3 separate regions of the Homo sapiens genome follow, and all the other regions are linked to region 2. Evidence: fine-mapped expression QTL. A gene starts in region 2. Each other region holds a variant in brackets. All regions are shown on one strand. Distances are between the middles of the regions.

Region 1 (4,243 bases), 65 kb before region 2:
AAATTGTATTCCCTGAATATTGTCATTTCAACTAGTTCTCCTAAGATGTTTAAATTTTGTTTATTTATTTAAAATGTATTTGTTAATCATTAGATGTACAGAATTTATTTATAATCTAGGTAATCCAAAGGTATCATTACAAAATTCTTTAATAAACAGAAATGTAAAAGCACATATAATCCAAGTCTGAGAATGGTAAAAGGCTAAGAAAATGAGAAAAAGCTACATCTTGTACAATTTGAAGTCCCTATGATAAATTACTTAGGCTTGTTACTTAAAAGAAAGGCTATTAACCATTTGGTGAAAACTTAAGTTCAGACAAAAAAACCACTCTGCTTACTTTGAGCACAAGGCTCTCTATACCAGAAATGGAACTCAACGTTACCTTCAGGGATTTTAATAAATCTAGGGAACACTGCTAGCAAAAGAGTTGCTGTCCAAATAGACTGACATACACAGGCCAATGTAGCCCCTAATGACAGAGTAAGATAATGACAGGCCCCACTCAAAATCAGCAGGAAGAGGAAGATCAATCTTGGCAGAGTGAAGGAAAAATGCTGGCTTTCTTCGTGTTAGCTCATCTCATACATATCTAGCTTCAGCAGCTGCCCAGTGCTGTGGTGCTCTGCGTTAACTACACAGTGGATCAATAACAATTACACCTTCTCAAAAACATGACACATAGCAGGATTGGGTTGACATTTCACTTAGGCCAACATTGATCTCAGTGCATCTGATTGCAGCCCTAAATTCAAGTCAGGCCTGGGTTTACTTGGAATAAACACAGAGTTAAAGACAAAAAAGGAAACCAGCTGCTTGCGTCTGGGTCTAGAAGTAAACAGCACTTCCACTGGTGCAGTTCACATTTTCAATCCACTCTTCCTGTTGCTACCAGCAATTCTGAAGTTGATCAAAGACAATTTTTTATATGATTTACTCACTGTGACATCAATGTTGATAATATCTCCATCCTGAAGAGGTCGACTAAAACGTAAACAGAAAAAAAAATGGTGATAGACAGATCTCAATAAAAGGAAAATAAAAATAAATACTTAATGACTACTGTCACAAACCCAATGGGATGCAGTGATAATTTGGAGTGAAGGAGGACTACACAGGATAACTAAATCTAATCTTTATTTCAAAAGATGCACTTAATTTATTACCTTAATTTTGCCAAGAACCAAAACAAGAGTTGATAAGAAAAATTTGCCACATTTGAATTTTACCACTTATATGATTAAAATCTAAGAAGTAAAAGACATACGTAATGCACAACCCCCATTTAGATTATGCACTGCTTTAACAAACATTAAATGGTGGTGGTGTATCCATTTAGAAGTAAAATACTTCAAAATTTCTGTTTTATCATAATCAATTTCAGAAGTTTACCGGTGGGTTTCAATTGAATGATAGTGTCTTTCAACATATGTTACAGATCTTAGCTTCATGTTTTAGTTTCCAAAGGAACAATATGTTATTAAGAACTGAATACCTGTCAGGAATACCATGACAGAGCACGTTGTTTACAGAGGTACAAACAGATTTTGGAAAACCTCCATAGCCTAGAGGTGAGGGATAGGCATTATGACTGATGATTTCCCGATGAACAAGAGCATCTATCTCTTCAGTTGTCATGTCAACCTAAAATGTTAAATAAAGAAATTGTGCAGCAACAATTGAAGACATTTCTTGTATTTATCAACTATGCTATAGCAACAGTACTTCCATGTGAGACTGTATAAATTTACTATGATAAAGTTATGGTACAACATTTGAATTAATTATGATTAGTGTTAGAATCCTCAACTGTGCCTTGTGGACAATCATTTGGGCATATGATGGTGTTATGGACCATTAGGAAATAGAAATGTTAAACCCTACGATCCTCTAAATCATTTGTGAGTCATTAAATGACATAACTCCCTTTTGGCCTGAGGATTTCAAAATTATGTTCTTCGGCAATTCCTTACTCTTTCTCAATGATTGGTGCCCTGGGCTACCCAGCGCATGTGAATAAATGCTCAAAAGGTTCATCAGTTGAACCTTGAAAAGCTTGAAAAGTAGGTCAACTCGCATCTTTTTATCTCAGTAAAACATTACAGGGGTTTTGCAGCAATGGCACAGAGATTATGGTTGATATTTAAAAGAGTGAGTCTAATATAGTTTGTAGAGATTTGATTTTAAGTAATCTTCATTTCTTTCATGTCTAAATAAATGTAATTTTTAAAATATTTTTTCCTTACTAAAGGTATTCCAAACTAAATTGCTCCCAAACTAAAAGAAAACTGAAATTGAGTTTTATAAGTATATGAAGACTATTTCCATAAACTCCATAAACATAAATAAAATTCTAAAACAAAAATAAAATCTTTTATTAAAAATTAACCATTTCTTCAATAATTTTCTTCATTTTGTATATATACATTATGTTTAGC[C/T]GTGTTGTAAGTTTATTACACAGAAGATACTGTGAGTGATTTTATCTTTGAGTCTCACTTCCTAAATTCTGCCCACCTTTTGGCAGAAAATAGGCTCATATTTTTCTTTTATAATCCTTATACAGAAGGGTGCTTCAGATTATTATGAAAGAACTAAATGAAAGAACTAAATCTTTTTTTTTTTTTTTTTGAGATGGAGTCTCACTCTGTTGCCCAGACTGGAGTACAGTAGCATGATCTTGGCTCACTGCAACCTCCACCTCCTGGGTTCAAGTGATTCTCCTGCCTCAGCCTCCCAAGTAGCTGGGACTACAGGTGCCCGCCACCATGCCTGGCTAATTTTTATATTTTTAGTAGAGGTGGGGTTTCACCATGTTGGCCAGGCTGGTCTCGAACTCCTGACCTCAAATGATCCACAGCCATGAGTCACTGCGCCTGGCCTAAAAGAACTAAATCTTGTAGTAGGAAGTTGTATGTAATTACACTGCTATATTACCTACAGCTTTGTGTATGTGATCTGATCTTTCTTTGCAGGGCAAATGCAAGAAAATAGGAGACAAAGGACAAGGTAGAGCAAATCTTCAAGCACACAGAAATAATGTGGGGAGTAAAAGCTGAAACTACAGGCAGGAGTAGGGGGGCAAAAATCAAAGCTGTCTGCCATTGATCAACTTGGATAGGTTGACTGAGACCAAAGTATCTCTAGAATTCTGCTAGTTAAAATTGAATTTGGATTTTAAATTACTTCTTGAATAAACACATAAAATAATAAAATTCCTTTTCCCCATCCCAAGGCTTTACTTAATTTTTAAAAACAAATTAATTTAAAACAAATAAATTTTTAAAACAAATTAGATGTCAACCTAAAAGAAGAGTTAAGGAGAAGGAAAAAAAGAGGAGTGTTTGTTGCCCCTTATGTAAGTCGTTCTGAGGCTTGGTGAGACGCCACCTTTAAACTCTTCCCAGCCAAGAGGAGGACGTGGCGGGCCAGCTGACAAGCCTGATGAAGCCCTTGAATCTGATCTTCATTCTTAACTTCTATGCTGTCTCCCCAGTCTGGTACAATGCCTGTCGTCACATAGTCTGGCTTCTTTATGTGCTTGAGGAAAAAGGATTGAAAACGAAGATCAGAACCCAGCGCACGACAATGGGATCATTTTTTCAGACACAGCCTCCTGCTTCATGGAGCTCTGCCCTTCCTGCCGGAGCACCGACCTCCGAAGCCAGCACAACAGACCCTCCAGGCTGCCCCCAGTTCCTTCCCCTGCCCTTTTGAACTTAACATTGCCTGTTAGTGCTGCCTCTGGATGGTCTGTTAACCTTACCATGCTTTGAGTCAAACTGGACTGAAGTAGACTTCTGGTCAAAACAAACAGTAGTTTTCTCTTTTTCCTCCTCCCAACCCAGTTAGAAGCATATTCACCATTGATGAAAAATAGCACCAAGCTTCCAATTCACCAAATGGTTAATTAAGAGCACTTTCATCTTCTTAACACAAAAATATAATTTATGCAAAAGATAGCTCCCAACACCCTCTCAAAATGAACATATGTAAAAAGGCTGACTATCAAGTTCCCTAAAGCCTATTACATATACACTTTTCTTACATTTTGCAACCGTACTTACACTGAGACACTAGAATAAAATGAAACAAGTTTTATTCTTCAAATACATAAAAATTACCTAGAACATTTCCATTATTTGTCAAGAGTAAACAAAAAGCCACCCCAAAACTCAAGACGTGCAACCCTGATCACTTTTGCAGACCATTCTCCACCATGGGCAGTATTCAGGAAATAAATACC
Region 2 (4,243 bases):
TATACATGCATAGGTGTATATATATATACATACATACACCTATGTATGTTTTCAGGTTGTTTTTTTTTTGGCTCCTCCTCTACATTGACTATCTCCTCAGATCCTTCTCACCATTACCTGAAGCATACAAAAATGAAGTCTAAAAGCCATGATTTCTTGTGAAAAGAGGAAACAGAAAAGTAATTAGTAAAGAAAGTTTGGACTGGAACCCAGATCTTTTTTTTTTTTTTTTCAGCTCACTACAACCTCCGCCTCCTGGGTTCAGGCGATCCCTCCCACCTCCACCTCCCAAGTAGCTGGGATTACCAGCATGTGCCACCACACCTGGCTAATTTTTGTATTTTTAGTAGAGACAGGTTTCACCATGTTGGCCAGGCTGGTCTTGAACTCCTGGCCTCAAGTGATCTGCCCGCCTTGGCCTCCCAAAGTGCTGGGTAATATTACAGGCATTAGCCACCTTGCCAGGCCTGGCACCCAGATCTTGAGAGATGTAAATTGGCTGTCTTTTCACAAGGCTACACTCTCATGCTGATGTCCATTCCTTCATGCAACCAGTCCAAAATGCTCGCTACATCACCTTCCCCATACACATCTCTCCCCTCAAATCTTCCTGTGGCCCCTTTCTCATCTCCACTAACACTGAAATACTGAAGTCTATTCGATTACCAACCTTCTTCCTCTCTAAAAATATCTTCCTCTTCACTTCTTATTTTTTATTATTTTTATTTATTTTTTTTTTCTGAGACGGAGTCTCGCTCTGTCGCCCAGGCTAGAGTGTAGTGGTATGATCTCAGCTCACTGCAACCTCCACCTCCTGGGTTAAAGCAATTTTCCTACCTCAGTCTCCCGAGTAGCTGGGATTACAGGCATGCGCCACCACGCCCAGCTAATTGTGTATATTAGTAGAGACGGGGTTTCACCATGTTGGCCAGGCTGGTCTTGAACTTCTGACCTCAAGTGAGCCACCTGCCTCGGCCTCCCAAAGTGCTGGGTTTACAGGTGTGAGCCACCGTGCCCAGGCTCTCTTCACTTTTTGTACACACTCATCCTGCACTGTCTCTGCTGAACTTTACACACTGACTTCTATGGAGTGACCACGTCATGCAGTACCGAGAAATGAGTCTTAAAAAAAAAAATTAGAGTCATGTTCAAATGAGCAATCTGCCTCTTACCATTTATGCGACCTTAGTAATGTTACTTAACCTCTCTAGCCTTACTTTTCCCTTCTGCAAAGAGAAAATAATTCCTAACTCACTGGGTTTTTGTTTTTGTTTTTGAGACAGGGTCTGGCTCTATTGCCAAGTCTGGAGTTCAGTGGTACGATCACGGCTCACTGCAGCCTCTTGACCTCCCAGGCTCAAGCGATCCTACCACCTCAACCCCCAGAATAGCTGAGACTACAGGCATGTGTCACCACGCCCGACTAATTTTTAAAATTTTTTGTAGAGACGGGGTCTCATTCATTGAGTTTTAAAAGGAAGCAAGCATATGTAAGGCGCTTAACACAGTATCGTGTACTTAAAAGGCACTTAATAAACAGTAGCTGTTACTATGAAAATAATATTTACCTCACAAAACTGTTCCTACATGCCTGACGCTTAAGTAGCTCCTCAAAATATGATAGTTTTCCTCTTCCCCCGTCCTTGGAAAAACTTTCTAGTTCTTTCCAACAAAGATTCAGCACCTAGTTCAAATCCAACAAAGATTTCCCCAATTCTGCTGCAAAGGCATTTGTATATTTACTAAAATCTCAACACTCACGCAGGATAAAACCTACTTAGAACTACCCAGACATCCTTTCTTATCTTCTTAACTTTAAGTCACTGGAAGAAAACCATCACATTTTGCAAGTCCCCAAAAAGCATGCCTGCATAAAAGCTCTAGGGAAGGGAACCGGGTGTCCAGATGCATTTCAGAATTACCATAGGTTTCCTTGCTCGGCATACAGAATAAATGTTGGTTACACTAATGATACAACCGAAGTTGGGGAAAAAAACTTCAGACAATGGCCCGCAAATCTCAAGGAGTAATTGCGAAAAGATGCCACGTGGTGACGTGTTCTAGGCGGGTGATCAGTGAACAAATTTGTATGTGTGATCCTGTGGTGTGTGAATGTGTCATCGTGTGTGCCTGCGTGTGTTCGTAAACACTGAAAGTACAGTCGTGTGCGCCGAGAAGTCTGAGCGCGGGTGCGCATCCCTTTGGACCCGGGTGCGTACCTAGTGAGCAACCGTGCGAACCCTCACGGGGCTCTCCTCCACGCGCTTACCTCTGCGGACGAGCAGGTGGACGCCACTGGGCGCCGCCATGTTGGCGTCGGTCACGTGGCCGCGAGCACTCGCTCGCCGCCCCGCCCGCTGGAGCCGGCCAGTCGCAGCCCTGCCGAAGCCCTGAGGCGTCGAGGCCGCCCGAGGGGAGCGCGCGTGCGCGCGCGGGGCTGACTGCGGGAGCCCTGGCTGGGAAGCGGCTAGGGCACCCGGGCAAGCAGCAGAACCCGCGGCCGGCTGAGTCCTCTCCAGCCGCGAGAGGCGGGCTCCAGCCGCGGCTCGCGCGCTCGCTCTGAGCCCCCGCGCCCAGGTGGGATGGAAGAAGCCTGTCAGGTAAGCGTGGCATCCAATATTTATAGCATCAACATTTTGGTGCATGGAAACGTGAAGTTGGGCGGAAAAAATAAAGCACAATCTAGTGTTCAACATAGCACTTTGTATCGTCTGCCACTCTGTTGCAAATTATTCCCCTGGATTCAGTTGAAAGGTAAAATTTGGTTCAAAGTCACCAGCTCCCCTTTTGCTGTCCCAGAATCTACATTACTCAGCAGAGACTCCAGACAACACAGGATCTGTGTGTCGCTGCAAAATCTATTCTAGGTACCCCAGTGGGTATGTTCAGGAGACTTCTCTTTCTCCAAGGACGCCTTCTGCTTGGCAGTATTAACTGGAGTCTTAATCCTAAATTTGGAGTTTAAGTATAAAAGGATGACGCCTGCCAATTGCATTGCCAAGAGAAGAAGCCTACAGAAGGCCAATTGTGAATCAGATGAGGGAGCTGATGTATGCCTACTGATGACGGTGCCCATTTTTACCAAATTCACTGTCTCTCTTACCTGTGTTCTGGGGTAGATGCCATCCTGTCATGGACCAGGTGTTATTCATCTTAGTAGCCTCCGTGCCCGGCACAGAACCCGATACCCGAGGAATGTCAGGTGAAGCAATTGAACACTGCATGAAACCAGTCAAACTGAGAATGTAACCGTTTCCAGACTTTAAATGCAGTGAAGATTGATTAGGATTCTCAGTGAATGTGTGTGATGTCTTCTAATTAATTTTTAAGCACTACACACTCAGTGAATAATCTAGACAATTCAGAACAATTCAGAAATAAGGAACAAGTGCAAGCCCCTTCCTCGCCCTCTGTACATACCATAGTCCCACTCCCCAGTTAACCACCGTGTGCTCAATTGAGATCTTTGCCTTTTACACACAGGCAAATGTAAGTATTTTAAATAGAATCATATGACTTGCTTTTTCCATTCCAGTCATCATAGGCATCAAATCTTAGAACACTTAGTTCAGACTTATTCTTTTTAATGACTATATAATCTTGATATTTTTACTTTTAAAGAGAGTGAATGTTGGCATTTCATTAGAGGACACATGCTATAATTCTGGAAAACCTGGTTTTGGATGCTTTTGGGTCACCTTGAAAGATAAAGAGAAGTAATGCTTTCCATCAGGGTAAATAAGATGCACAAGAATGAGAATAAAATGTACTCCTACCTTTTGCAAACTCATTTCAATTCCAGGGAGAGCATTTTTGAATGTGGCAAATCTGTCCTCTGTGTAACTGAGGCCAGCAATCTGAGTGCAGCAAAGGAGCCTGAGAGTTAGCTGGCCACAGAGTCTTAAGCAGTGTACAGAAAAAAGAAATCTAGACATCCCTATTCCTTAAGGCATCAAGCCTAGTTTCAAACCCATCTGAAATAGAACACATGTTCATGTGACTTAACTCAGCCAACCCTTGGAAAATAAATGAATGCTTTATTCCCCTACAACTAAAAGGAAAAGGAAACACTATGAGGACCCAGGTGGCACCAGCAGTAGTGGAATCCAGTGAGGAAATCCTCAATAAGTTCGGCATGGAATGTAGATATCTGGGATGAGCTAGAAATGAAGCAAATATGAACTTGCACAGGTGATAGCTCATCCACTGACCCTGGATCTGGCTTCTCTCATACACATCCTTC
Region 3 (4,243 bases), 32 kb before region 2:
CTTATTCCAGAGCTTTTTAGTTGATATAATCTATGTAGACAGCCATACTGCTTGTTGAAGCAGAAAAAGCTACTAAATTTTCTAAGCAGAAAACCTGGATCCTTTCAGGAACTTCATAATAATAAAACAGTTGATATATTTGTGGCAATTTACAAAGTAACATCATACATATTATTAAGTTTGGCACAACAACCCGGACCAGGTGGTAAACTGGGAAAATAACCTTGTACCTATTTTATAGGCAACGCCCTAACCAGAAATAACACACACACACACACACACACACACAAAAACTGAGACTTATGGAGGCTAATGAATTTGTCCACGATCACAAATTTACAAGTGGCAAATCTGGGATTTACCTAAGCCTATTTTAAAAACTTTTTATTATAGAAAATTTCAAAAACACACAAAAGTAGATTAGTGTAACAAATCCCCATGTATCTATCATTCAGCTTCAACAATGGCCAATAGATGGCCAATCTTGTTTCATCCATAACCATCATCCCTTCCCACTGGATAATTTTGAAGCCTATTCAGATATCATATAATTTCAACTGTAAATATTTCCATGTGTACATCCAAAAGATGAGGACTTTTGTTTTTTTTTTTTTTTTTGAGATGAAGTCTTGCTCTGTTGCCCAGACTGGAGTACAATGGCATGATCTCCACTCGCCGCAACCTCCGCCTCCTGGGTTCAAGTGATTTTCCTACCTCAGCCTCCCGAGTAGCCGGGATTACAGGCACGCACCACCACTGCCAGCTAATGTTTTGTATTTTTAGTTGAGACAGGGTTTCACCATGTTGGCCAGGCTGGTCCCAAATCCCTGACCTCGTGATCCCCCCCGCCTCGGCCTCCCAAAGTGCTGGAGGCCGTGAGCCACCATACCCGGCCTGTGATGAGAACTCTTTTTAATGGTTTAATAATATAATATTATACCTTTAGAAATTAACAATAGTTCCTTAGTACCATCAAATATTTTATCAGCCTTTAGATATTCTCCTTTTGTCATATATTCTTTTTTAAATTAAACAAATGGGCTGGGCCCGGTGGCTCACACCTGTAATCCCTGCACTTTGGGAGGCCGAGACAGGCACATCACTTGAGGTCAGGAATTCGAAACCAGCCTGGCCAACGTAGTGAAACCTTGCCTCTCTAAAAATACAAAAAAATTAGCCCGGGCATGGTGGCAGGCACCTGTAATCCCAGTTACTTGGGAAGCTGAGGCAGGAGAATTGCTTGAACTCGGGAGGCGGAGGTTGCAGTGAGCCAAGATCGCACCACTGCACTCTGGCCTGGGTGACAGAGTGAGATTCCGTCTCAAAAAAAAAAAAAATTAAACAAATGTATTATTAAAATAGGAGCCAAATAAGGTCTATTGTACTTGATTGCTATGTCTCTTATGCCAGTTTTAATGAATTCCTCCCTTTTTTCTTTCTCGTAAATTATTTGTTAAGAAAATGAATTTGTCCCTAGCACTTCTCACATTCTGTAACTTACCAGTTGTATCTTGGTGGTGTCAATTAATATGTTTCTCTGTCCTTTGTATTTCCTGTAGACATATTAAATCTAGGGATTTGTTCTGATTCAAGTTTGATTTTTTTATTTTTATTTATTTATTTATTTATTTATTTAGAGATGGAGTCTTGCTCTGTCGCCCAGGCTGGAGTGCAGTGGTGTGATCTCAGCTCGCTGCAAGCTCCACCTCCCGGGTTCACGCCATTCTCCTGCCTCAGCCTCCCGAGTAGCTGGGACTACAGACGCCCGCCACCAGGCTCAGCTAATTTTTATTTTTAGTAGAGATGGGGTTTCACCGTGTTATCCAGGATGGTCT[C/G]CATCGCCTGACCTCGTGATCCACCTGCCTCGGCCTCCCAACGTGTTGGGATTACAGGCGTGAGCCACCACGCCCGGCCTCAAGTTCAATTTTTTTGGCAAGAATATTTAATGGACAGTGGTGTGCTCTGATAGCTGTGGCTCTTTTTGTGATGTTAGCAACCATTGATGACCAGTAGATAGATTCATTATTTCACGAGGGGTTTGCCAAATGGTGATATTCTCTCAGACCTTCTTAATTTGTTGGCAGAAATACTTCTAAAAAGAGAAACTTTCTTTCATCAAATATTTGGTCATCCTGAGGTTCAGTTCCATACAGGATATATCAAGTTAAGGGCTTGATTCTTTCCTTCTACTTAACCAGTTTTCAAGAGTGAGTTAAAAAATATAGGGCTTTCAACAACAAATTCAGTGTTCCTAATCAGAGATTACATAAAGTATCTATCTAGAAGATGATCTATTTCTATCTAAATGATTTCTACAGGGAAGGTTGAGTCAAGTGAAACATAATTTCACTTTGAAATAAGAATACTAATCAGAATCCAGTAAAACAGAAACATTTTACTGATTTTATCATAAAGTAAAACTATTAATCTCTCAGACTTAATAAATCACGTATCTTTTCTATTCTTTTCTTCTCACACTTTTATTTCGGGAGTGGGATGAGGCTGGGAGATTAGAGGTAACAAGATAAGACTGCAATTTAAAGGGGGAAAAACTCAACTCCAAATGGGTTTTTCTTTAAGAAGGAAACCCAAAACCAAAAGAAAACAGGTAAAATTAGCTATTGAAATTATGGCTATGTGAATCAACCCTTGCTCCCTACATCTGGCAGCATTTAGCTCCCCGAGGGCATGCTTGGTGCCCCAGGGCACCGTTACACATGTTTGACCAGCCGGGCAACAAGAAAGGACGCAGAAACTATGAATAGAGGCAGCAGGTAACCATCAGGCCGACCAAATGGCTGAGGCACTTTGACAAAACACACAATGAAGCAACTGGTTATTCCCATGGCTGAAAAGTCAACGACGTAGGGCTTTATTTTGGGATTCGAATTCCACAACACTCCTCTTTAAGTCACTGGGTTACTTCCTTGTTTAAATCAGGTCCTCAAATCCTCCCTTTTCTTTCAGACACTCAGTGAAAAGCATCAGAGATGAGCTGTATAAAGCTACTTTGTATTCTTGCCAAAAACCCATCTGAGAATTCAACTAGACTGTTTTCTGGACTCTACTCCAAGTCTGTGCAGGAAGTGAAGGTGCCAAATTATTCTGGAAACACTTTGGTATTGTGCTCAAAAAGAGAGAGAAAGCATATGTGAATGACTTCCTCCATCTTATTATATAATATCCATTTTACAACTGAGATAAGTCTAGTGCTATAGTTTTAAATATGGCTCCCCTCTAACTAAACATTTTATTATTATAAAGGACAGGCTTTGCCCACCTTTCCTACAACCTAAAGCCCTCTTTTGGAGCCCCTGGTAGGGGAGTGTCTCCCTTCTCTCCCACCAAGATCCCTACCCTCTGCTCTTCCTCTGGGGTCTTCACCAAGACTACTGAAAACATACCCAACTCATTCCTTCTAAAGCAATCTTGGCAAAACCCAGAGTGATAACTCCTATTAAACTAAGCCTTTATGAGGATACTCCATTAACCCAAAGAAAATTCTAATACGTAGTTGGACATTTTATGTTCCAAGAAGGCTGTAGGGGACATATTTTAGGGCCAGTGGACCTTTCCAATTATTTCAAATTATATCATTTGTTAATAATAACCTGTTTTATAAAAATATGACACTCTGGGGGAAAATACTATAAATGTCTTTAGTCTCCCAATAAAATATTTCTGAATTATGAATTTTTAAAAATGATGAGTACTTGAGAAAATTTTCCTAAATTATCATTTCCTAAATTATCATTATCATACCTAAAGTCTTTACTTCTGAAAAGTAATTTCTTAAAACTACACAGCAGGATGACATTTTTAATGTATGAGACATACATACATGTGAGTGAGCTTAACTGTAGAATTAAGACATTCTTTAACAACTGGTTCACATACAACTAAATATTTAGAGAAGCTAAATATATTTCCAATTTTAAGTACAGAAGAAAGTTAAATGAAAGACTTTCTTAAGAAACAGTATATTTCCTGCGAATTGATGTCGCTCCATGGTCTCCAATTTAAGACAAAAGCAGAAACGTAATTGCTGGCTGCATTCCTATTGCTCATGACTTTATTACAAAACCAGAAGCAAATCAAGGATTTGAATTTAGAAAGATGCTTTCCAGTGGTAAAGGCTGAAGATAGGGTTCATGGGGTAAGAATGCAGAGATTTTGTTTAGAATATCCCTCTATAACATGGTAGCAATGTTGTGTCACACACCCTTGGACCTCGACCCTTACT

Direction of the effects. Positions count from the first base shown, and alleles are read on the strand shown. Sizes are in standard deviations (SD) of each study's normalised expression. Not every link is listed here.
With allele T in place of C in region 1, the expression in thyroid of the gene that starts at base 2,326 in region 2 is higher (small effect, 0.22 SD a copy in GTEx).

What was found. PIP is the estimated chance that this variant, and not a neighbour inherited with it, causes the effect. A credible set is the group of variants that fine-mapping cannot tell apart.
Region 1: its variant is the best candidate, but not a certain one, in a credible set for the expression of METAP1D in thyroid (GTEx, PIP 0.83).
Region 3: its variant is the best candidate, but not a certain one, in a credible set for the expression of METAP1D in whole blood (TOPMed, PIP 0.65).

Annotation. Positions count from the first base shown.
Region 1 is chr2:172,063,005-172,067,247 of GRCh38, reverse strand. It overlaps METAP1D (methionyl aminopeptidase type 1D, mitochondrial), which reads right to left. Exons shown (of 10, transcript NM_199227.3): 3 at 3,388-3,537; 4 at 1,496-1,644; 5 at 942-984. Among named protein-coding and RNA genes, the nearest start is that of DLX1, 20 kb to the left of the region's middle. The variant C/T (reference allele first, on the strand shown) is at 2,439.
Region 2 is chr2:171,998,036-172,002,278 of GRCh38, reverse strand. METAP1D (methionyl aminopeptidase type 1D, mitochondrial) reads right to left here and starts at 2,326. Exons shown (of 10, transcript NM_199227.3): 1 at 2,270-2,326. The coding sequence starts at 2,309. LOC124905590 (a long non-coding RNA gene) reads left to right here and starts at 2,370. Exons shown (of 3, transcript XR_007087296.1): 1 at 2,370-2,600. RefSeq lists a silencer at 2,332-2,631.
Region 3 is chr2:172,030,452-172,034,694 of GRCh38, reverse strand. All of the region lies in intron 1 of METAP1D (methionyl aminopeptidase type 1D, mitochondrial), which reads right to left. Among named protein-coding and RNA genes, the nearest start is that of METAP1D, 33 kb to the right of the region's middle. The variant C/G (reference allele first, on the strand shown) is at 1,836.